Linked DNA regions of Homo sapiens: region 1 is reported to be linked to region 2. The links are microRNA targets in miRTarBase. Many come from high-throughput screens and were not tested one by one. Region 2 holds a microRNA gene; the other region holds the end of a gene's coding sequence.

Region 1 (3,000 bases), not on the chromosome of region 2:
AACCCAAGGGAGTGGAGTTAAGGACCCCCTGAGGTGTGGCTGGATCTGTGGACTGGGAAGGGGCAGGGAAGTAGGAGAAGGGTCTGGAGAGGGTGTGGGGACAAGTCACGGAAAGTCTTCAAAGCCAGAAAATTGCTCAGATTATGTCCTGGGAGGGCAGGGGGTTGCTATATTTCTGAGAAGCTGCCCAAGGCTCCACCCTGTCTCCTGCAGCAGTGAGTCTTGCGGGTCTCTGGGCAGGTCCACGAGGCATGGGGCCTTTTTGGGAGCTGTCTGCCCCCTGCTCTCCCATGGCTGGGGTGGCGCAGGTGGATCCTTTTCCCAGGAATCTCTTGGTGCCCTGACTTGTCTAAGCTCCACACGTCTGTGTGGTAGGTGTGAGTGGCTGGAGAGATTATCACTCTAACCTCCCCAAGTAACCAGCAAGGAAATTCACATCCAGAGAGGGGTGCTGACTTGCTCAAAGTGGGACAGCTTGCAGGGCAGGGGCAGACCAGAACCCAGGTCTTTGGTCTCTGGCACCAGGTCATGTTATCGTGGGTGGCACTGAGCCTGCAGCTCTCCACTTGGGGTCTGTCTTGAGGGCTCTGAGGAACACAGGCAGAATGCTTAGCCCCTCTGGGGCCCCTCGGATGTTCCACTGTTTACTAGGGACCAGAACAGCCCCAGTCTGGAAAAAGCCCTTGGAGTGCCCTGGGGAGGGCGGTGGTGGCCGGGGCTCTGGCCCTGTGGGTGTCTCTGTAGCAGAGCAGCTGAGCTTGGGGGCCTGGCTGTTCCACAGGAGGGTGTGTGTGTGTGTGCACGCACACAGCATGTCGCATGGCGAGGTGGAAGAGGAAGGGCGGGAGAGATGAGTGAGTGTGTGCCATGATAAACTGCAGGTGGGACCAGCCTGTGGGCAGCGTCCCTCTGAGGGCAGCAAAAAGAGACGTCAAATTCAACCAGGGCAGTGTCACATCATGGACACGCTTTTGAACCAGCAAGACCAGTGGTCTGCCCCTCTTCACCAGTAGACCTCTCTAAGCCTCAGTTTCCACATCTGTGAAGAGAGGACATGTTCCCTCCCTCAGAGGGTTTCAGTGGGTAGTTGAGGTAATGGATGGACCTCAACCCACACGGTGCCTGCCGTGGGGTACAGGGGGCAGGAACTGCGCTGGGCTGGCTCCTCGGCACAGGACACAGGGCCTGGCATTATTTGGAACTGGGCTGAACGGCAGAGTGCCGCAGTGTTGGTGGGCAGGGCAAAGGCAAGAGTGAATCCCCCAGGCCACACCCTCCCCCTCCCCTAATCTGCATCACCATTAGCCAGGGCCACCTCTGGGACACAGCCTGGACCAGAGGCCCCAGGAGGGGCAGGGTGGGACCCCTGCCAAGGAACCACTGGTCGTGAGCTTGAAGCCCATCCACTCCCCTAGGGCCTGGGGCACTCGCCCCACCTTGCCTTGCCCTTCACACCTCCTCTCCCTCTCCCTGCAGGAGCACAGGCCACCACACACACCACCAGAGCCAGATCCAGAGCCCCTGAGCGTGGTCCTGTTAGGACGGCAGGCAGGCGCAAGTGGACAGCTGGAGGGGCCATCCTACACCAACGCTGGCCTGGACACCACGGACCTGTGACAGGGGCCCCCACTCTTCTGGACCCCTTGAAGAGGCCCTACCACACCCTAACTGCACCTGTCTCCCTGGAGATGAAAATATATGACGCTGCCCTGCCTCCTGCTTTTGGCCAATCACGGCAGACAGGGGTTGGGGAAATATTTTATTACCAATGTATACTGTGACAGTTTGTAGCCAAAAACTGCGGCTGGAGGGGTGGGGACGGGACACTGAGTGGTCACAAGGGACTTGGGCTCACAGCACAGGGGGGACAAGGGGCTGGAGAGGGTGGCCTTTAAAAGACAACTGTGGTTATAGAATGAGCTCTCTGTCCTGTCCCCAATACCCAAGAACACCGGTCACCCAGGATGCCAGGGCCCAAGAGCTTCTGTGAGCCCAGCTGTGACCTCCAGACCTTCCTGAGACCCTCTGGCCTTTCTGTGACTCTCTCTCAGCTGAGCCCCCAGGGTACTTCCTGTAGCTGTCTTTGGCCTCTCTGGGAATCTCAAACCTGTGACTCAGTGGGAGAGGGGATGGGGCTGGAACCAGGCGGGTGGGAGATAGGAACTGGGGAAGGACCACCAACAGCATGCAAGAGACGCCCCGGCCACGGGGCCAGCCACTGCGTGGAGACGCTCACACTCGTTCTACCTCACGTGCTGCCCGAGACCTCACATTCAGAGACGTGCCCACTCGCGGGTCTCACACACCGATCCTCACCCACTTGAAGCTTCTGCCACTCAGACTTGTATGCAGTCTCTCCCTGTTCTGGGGATCTGGCCCCACCGGAGACCACAACGCACCAGTCTAGACATCTCAGGAGCCTGCCCCAGCTCTCAGGGGGTGGGAGGTGAGGGTGCTGAGCAGGCCCCCGTGGTCGCCCAGTGTGACCGGGAGTAGAGCTGAGGGCTGTGAGGGGACAGTGGGGCGTCAGGGCTGGCCGGGTTCGTGGCCTCGTGGCCACGAGGGAGCTTGGTAGAAGGGGTTCTTCTGTATTTGTGATGGGAGGGGCTGGAAAGACGGGGACGCAACAGCCCTAGAGGCTGCACAACCCCTCGGAGGCCTGTGGCACGCAGAGGGGACCCCTTCTAGGGGCCTGTGATCAAGAAGGGAGCCTGAGAAGGTCGGAAACTCGGGCGTACAAAATGGGGGCAGATCACTCGGCCGTGGGTCCCGCCCGCGAGCAGCACCGCGGCCGGCGCACACTCTGCAGCAGCGCGCGGAACAGGCCGGGCGGACGCTTGGCGGCGCCATCTGGGGGCGCGGTGCGCACCGAGCCCGAACGGCCGGGGCCGGCACGGGCGGCGGGCGGCGGCGCGGGCGCCCCTTGGCGGCCGTGCTCCTCGATCTGTCGCTCCAGATGCTTCTGGATGGCCATGCCCAGCACCTCCACCTCCATGGCGG
Region 2 (4,533 bases):
CTAAATCTGTGAGGAGATAAAACAGGCTGGTGATAAAAATTAATTCTGCTGAATGAGCAAATGCATTTGGATTGCAGAGATGCAAATAAGATAATACTTTTCTTTTCCTTTGACATACCAAGAGGATTACTTTAGAATGTTAAATTTGATTTTATTAGAATATATTAGCAGTGTTTTAATTAATACCAATCAAACATTTTCTTTCCCTGAGGCTTGATGTGTTCCTCGCTTTCTAAATCATCTGTCTTTTTTTCATCAAAAAGCCCCTCTACCAAATTACCAAAGCCTTTGTTACATTCTTTATAATTTTACTGTATTCAATGGAAAATTATGAGCTCTTTACCTAAAGGTGTCTTGCCTATAGTAATATATTCCCAGGTTCTAGATTTAAAATGAATACTGTTCATTAGTACACATATTTTTTAAAGGTAGAATTAGAGACTTGAAAAGAAATATCTTCTGTATTTTTCTTTTGGGGAAAAATGTTGCAAAAGGAATTTTGGCTGGTTCATATTATTTGGCTTTTATTCTCACTAGAGCTTCCTAGAGCTGTTAAATTCCAACTGCCTTGGTTTTGAGCTGGCATTTCTTTGGAAACAGAGGCAAAAAAGGAATTTTTAAAAAGGAGGTGGGGAGAGAAACTAGTTAAAAATACGGTGAGCCAGTGTGCCCTGTGAACTGAATTGTAACTGTGTGTTCCAAGGAGGTGCTGCATTGCATTTCACTCATTATCCTCTCCTTTTCTCTCAAGCTTCCTGTCCTTCTGTGTCCGAAAGCTCCAGTTCACTTCTTTCTCTTTTCTTCCCGCAACGCACCCCCGCCCCAGTTCCCCGCCTTATTTTTTTTTTTTTAATCTGCCAAGCTGGATTTGCACTTTTAAAGATCAGTATCAATAATGCCCTGCTTGTTTCGGTTGCACTCTCCCTTTAAAAGACAGCCCCCTCTAATTGATGCGTCTGGGCTAGTCTAGACTGGTAGTGATTGAACCAACCACCAATTATGTTATTCATTTCACTGAACTTCACTGATGGGCTCGGTGAGGAAGAAGGGGTGTTGAGAAACCTGCCCTTGACTGAAGCAGTTGCCTGCTGAAATATAAAATCTTGTGTCGTTATGCACTTTTAAATGCCTGGGTGATCAGTTGTATGATAGCAACCTCGGAACATGAGCAATCCACTTGAAAACATGTAAAAACCTGAGAGTGCCTTGAAATACAAATTAAAACACTTGTATTAAATTACTACCCTGTTATCACTGAAAATCACGGAAGAATTTTACCTGGCATGTTTTTATTGATCCATGTATACATTTTCATAGAGTAAACTGCAGATATATTTTAACTTCAAAAAGCACCAACTGTTTTACAAATGTTGGATATGAATAATGTGGTAATATAGATTCGTAAGTTAAATAGATGCCTTGCTATAATTTCCAAATACCTATGCATACACATCAGCTAAGGTAGGGGAAGTCATTAAACCATTGAATATAAACTAACGATGACTCGACAATCAAATAACTATTTTTTTTGAAGCACATTCGGACTATCAAAGACTGGAAAGTAATATTCTAATATTACTACACAAGAGGTTTCAACAAAAGACGTGGTGCAATCGTTGCATAGTTCATATTCTCAGTTCAATTTTCTGATACAAAATGGTTTCTTGATTGCAATTTGGCATTAATGACTAAAATTGCAATAAACACTTAAAATAAAAAACAATAACAGGCAAAGAACAGTTTCCCTAACCTTCAATTACATGTATAAAACAAGGCTACAACCAATATAAAGTCTTTAGAAGAAGAAAGCATTTGGATTGGGGTTGATTTAGGTGTTTTTCAAACATAGAAGAGAAATGTTGGCCCAATAATACGAAAATTGTTTAAATGATATTTTATACTAGAATTTTTCACAACAAAGGAAAGGTAAGTTACTGTTTCTCTTCCCCAACTACGAGACAGCCCTAAATCACTGAAATGATTCAGTTATAAAAAGTTACAGCTCAAGAAAACTACAAACTAGGTAATGCTAGCCATTACCTTAAGAAAGGATAATTTTAAATGTACAGTTTGGGTGTTATAAAACCTTTTTTGGATTGAATTTAAGTACTGATAAAATTTTCCTTAGTTTTAAAATGAAAACCAGTATTTGTTACTCCCAAAGAATACGATAATTGTGTTTGCTGTTGCTGTTGCTTTCATTTTACATATTTAGAAGATTTATTTCCAATCTTTATCACCTTTATATCCATAAAGTATAACATTTTGTAAAAGATACCAAGCAAGGAGGTGGTATCCCTCCTTTTATTTTTAAAAAATCTTGCAAAGTCATACAAACTTAATTTTTATTAATACCATAACTTCCATCCTTTGTGTGGAATTGCAAGAATAGAATTTTAACCTATTAATATTTTACTCCAAACTATTAGTTTGCCTTTATCTGCGTCTGTATGTTCACTGTCTAGCCATCCATGATACACATGTGTGGACACTGAATATATAATATATTCACATGCCCATTTTAATTGGGCACAATTTTAAGATTAACTGTGGAGTTTGAAAGTTGGAGACATGGGGCATGCTGGGACTTCAGCTGAGATGTTCTGAGGTCAAGCACCAGGTACTGAGCTGTTCTTGTTACGCTCGTATACTACTGCGTGTTGCTCTCAAGGAATAGACCAGGCAGATGAGTTCCACAAGCCTCAGGCATCAATAACATGCATACATACACATAGCAGCCAACACGCTATTAAAGCAAAATATATACCTACTTTAACAGAAATCCAGGAGCTGCCACTCTCTGGTCACCTGATCCCATCTAACAATGAAAACCTCAGAGGTATACTCAATCACCTCAGACAAACTTTCTTTTCTTTTGTTTTTGCTTTAAAGAATAAAATTCCACCAAATTTCCAGGATGCAAAAGCACGACTCGCAGCTCCCAAGAGCCTAACCCGTGGATTTAAACGGTAAACATCACAAGTTAGGGTCTCAGGGACTGAGAGGAGCGCAACAATGTTTTCTTTCTTGAGACAAAGCAAAGCAAAACAAGAATGACAGGCAATTTCTGTTCGAGGTTCATAACTAAGATGCAACAAACAGGTGGTATGGTATTTCTTCTCTAAGCTCCTTTCCTTCACAAAATTGAGATTCCGTTTAAGCCTAATACATATATACACACATACGCAGTATCTGGGGGCGCATATACAATCACGCACATACACATACGATCACGAGTACATCAGAGAAAACTCTTTCAAGATTTGGGCAAAATAGTTCACTAAAACGGAAAATAATATGCACAGACTCAGAAATGCCCAAGTTTTTAAAACCATAGTCTACAATAAGGATTTAGTGTCTTTTCAAAGCTTTAATTTACGACTAGCACAAATGACTGAAGAGAAAATAGGAGGCATCTCTTTCCCCCAGGGCAAGTATGCCGCATGCAAAAATCATAGAAATCGGGTTTTCAAAGGAGAAGACCAAGAAGTAGGATTCGGAGGCTATAGAAGTGTAAAGACGAATAGCGTTCTGAACTCACCCATTCGAAGCGGAGCGGGGCCCGCACAGCCTCCTGTGGCACCATCCCGAGCAAGGGGGGAAAATGAGAGCTCTCAGTGCGCTAGGCTGGGCGAGGTGTTTCAATAGAGGACGGAGAACGGGGGCGGGGAGGGGAGGCGGGGGCAGGAAGCGATACACCAAATCTCGAGACTGTAACTCTGTAGCTTATGCTTTGACGAGAGAAAAAAGGGCAGTTGGGTGGGAGTGGAGGGAGGGGCTGGAACTGATCAAATTTGGAAAATATTCACTTAAAAATTAAAAAAAGGCGGGGGGGGGGGGGGAGTATGAAACCTCCCCAGAGCTGCTTTTTGAAAAATTTCTTCCTTCTTTCTTTAGCGTGCACTTTGCCAGTCCTGCAAACGGAGGCTTCGTCTGCATCAGCTGCTTGGCTGAAGTCAAGGCCAAATCACCAAGAGCGAGCACCAGGCTGTCATTTGGTAGACACGAAGTGGGAAGGGCTGGGTGCGGGCTGGGGAGAGACATTCCCCCCGCACCTCCCGCTGCGGATTCTTTGAAGCCTTTGGCCAATATTTCAGAGGAATCCGAAGCATAATTCCCCTCCATCTTCGCAGACAGCCCCTGGTTCTGTACCTGATAGATTGTCGCTTTCCTCATCAGACTGGAAGTGGGGCTTTCCTGTGCCGCCACCAAAAATGAAAGGAAAAGGAGGGGAGGCAGATGGGAAGATGACCCTTTTACAAATGTTTCTTCTCCTTTTTCTTTCTGTTTTTCATTTCATTTCTTTCTTCTTCTTGTTCTTCTTTTATTCCAGGCCTGAGCAAGGTAGATGGCTGGCTAGTCAAAGAGAATGACAAAGCAGCCACAGCCAGGAGGACACTGGAGAGGCCTCAACGCACTTAGTAAAAATGCTAAATATTTTTTTAGATATTTCCATATGCAACTAAAAACAGTTAGAGCTCTAGACTCTCCCCCTCCCCTCCTTTAAAAATGGAATCATACTAGCAACACAGC

The links. The annotated mature microRNA hsa-miR-125b-5p reads UCCCUGAGACCCUAACUUGUGA and lies in region 2 at 2,977-2,998, opposite strand. An mRNA with a match to its seed (bases 2 to 7 or 8) in the 3' UTR can be bound and repressed. Matches are read on the target gene's strand: a 7mer-m8 pairs with bases 2 to 8, a 7mer-A1 pairs with bases 2 to 7 and ends in A, and an 8mer does both.
Region 1: miRTarBase lists GPRIN1 as a target of hsa-miR-125b-5p. The part of its 3' UTR that is shown has no 7-base or 8-base seed match.

The regions. Positions count from the first base shown.
Region 1 is chr5:176,594,056-176,597,055 of GRCh38, forward strand. It overlaps GPRIN1 (G protein regulated inducer of neurite outgrowth 1), which reads right to left. Exons shown (of 2, transcript NM_052899.3): 2 at 1,747-3,000. The coding sequence ends at 2,753. CDHR2 (cadherin related family member 2) reads left to right here. Exons shown (of 32, transcript NM_017675.6): 32 at 1,477-1,769. The coding sequence ends at 1,617. Among named protein-coding and RNA genes, the nearest start is that of GPRIN1, 15 kb to the right of the region's middle. RefSeq lists a silencer at 2,820-2,979.
Region 2 is chr11:122,096,833-122,101,365 of GRCh38, forward strand. It overlaps MIR125B1 (microRNA 125b-1), which reads right to left and starts at 3,012; the gene lies at 2,925-3,012. All of the region lies in intron 4 of MIR100HG (mir-100-let-7a-2-mir-125b-1 cluster host gene), which reads right to left.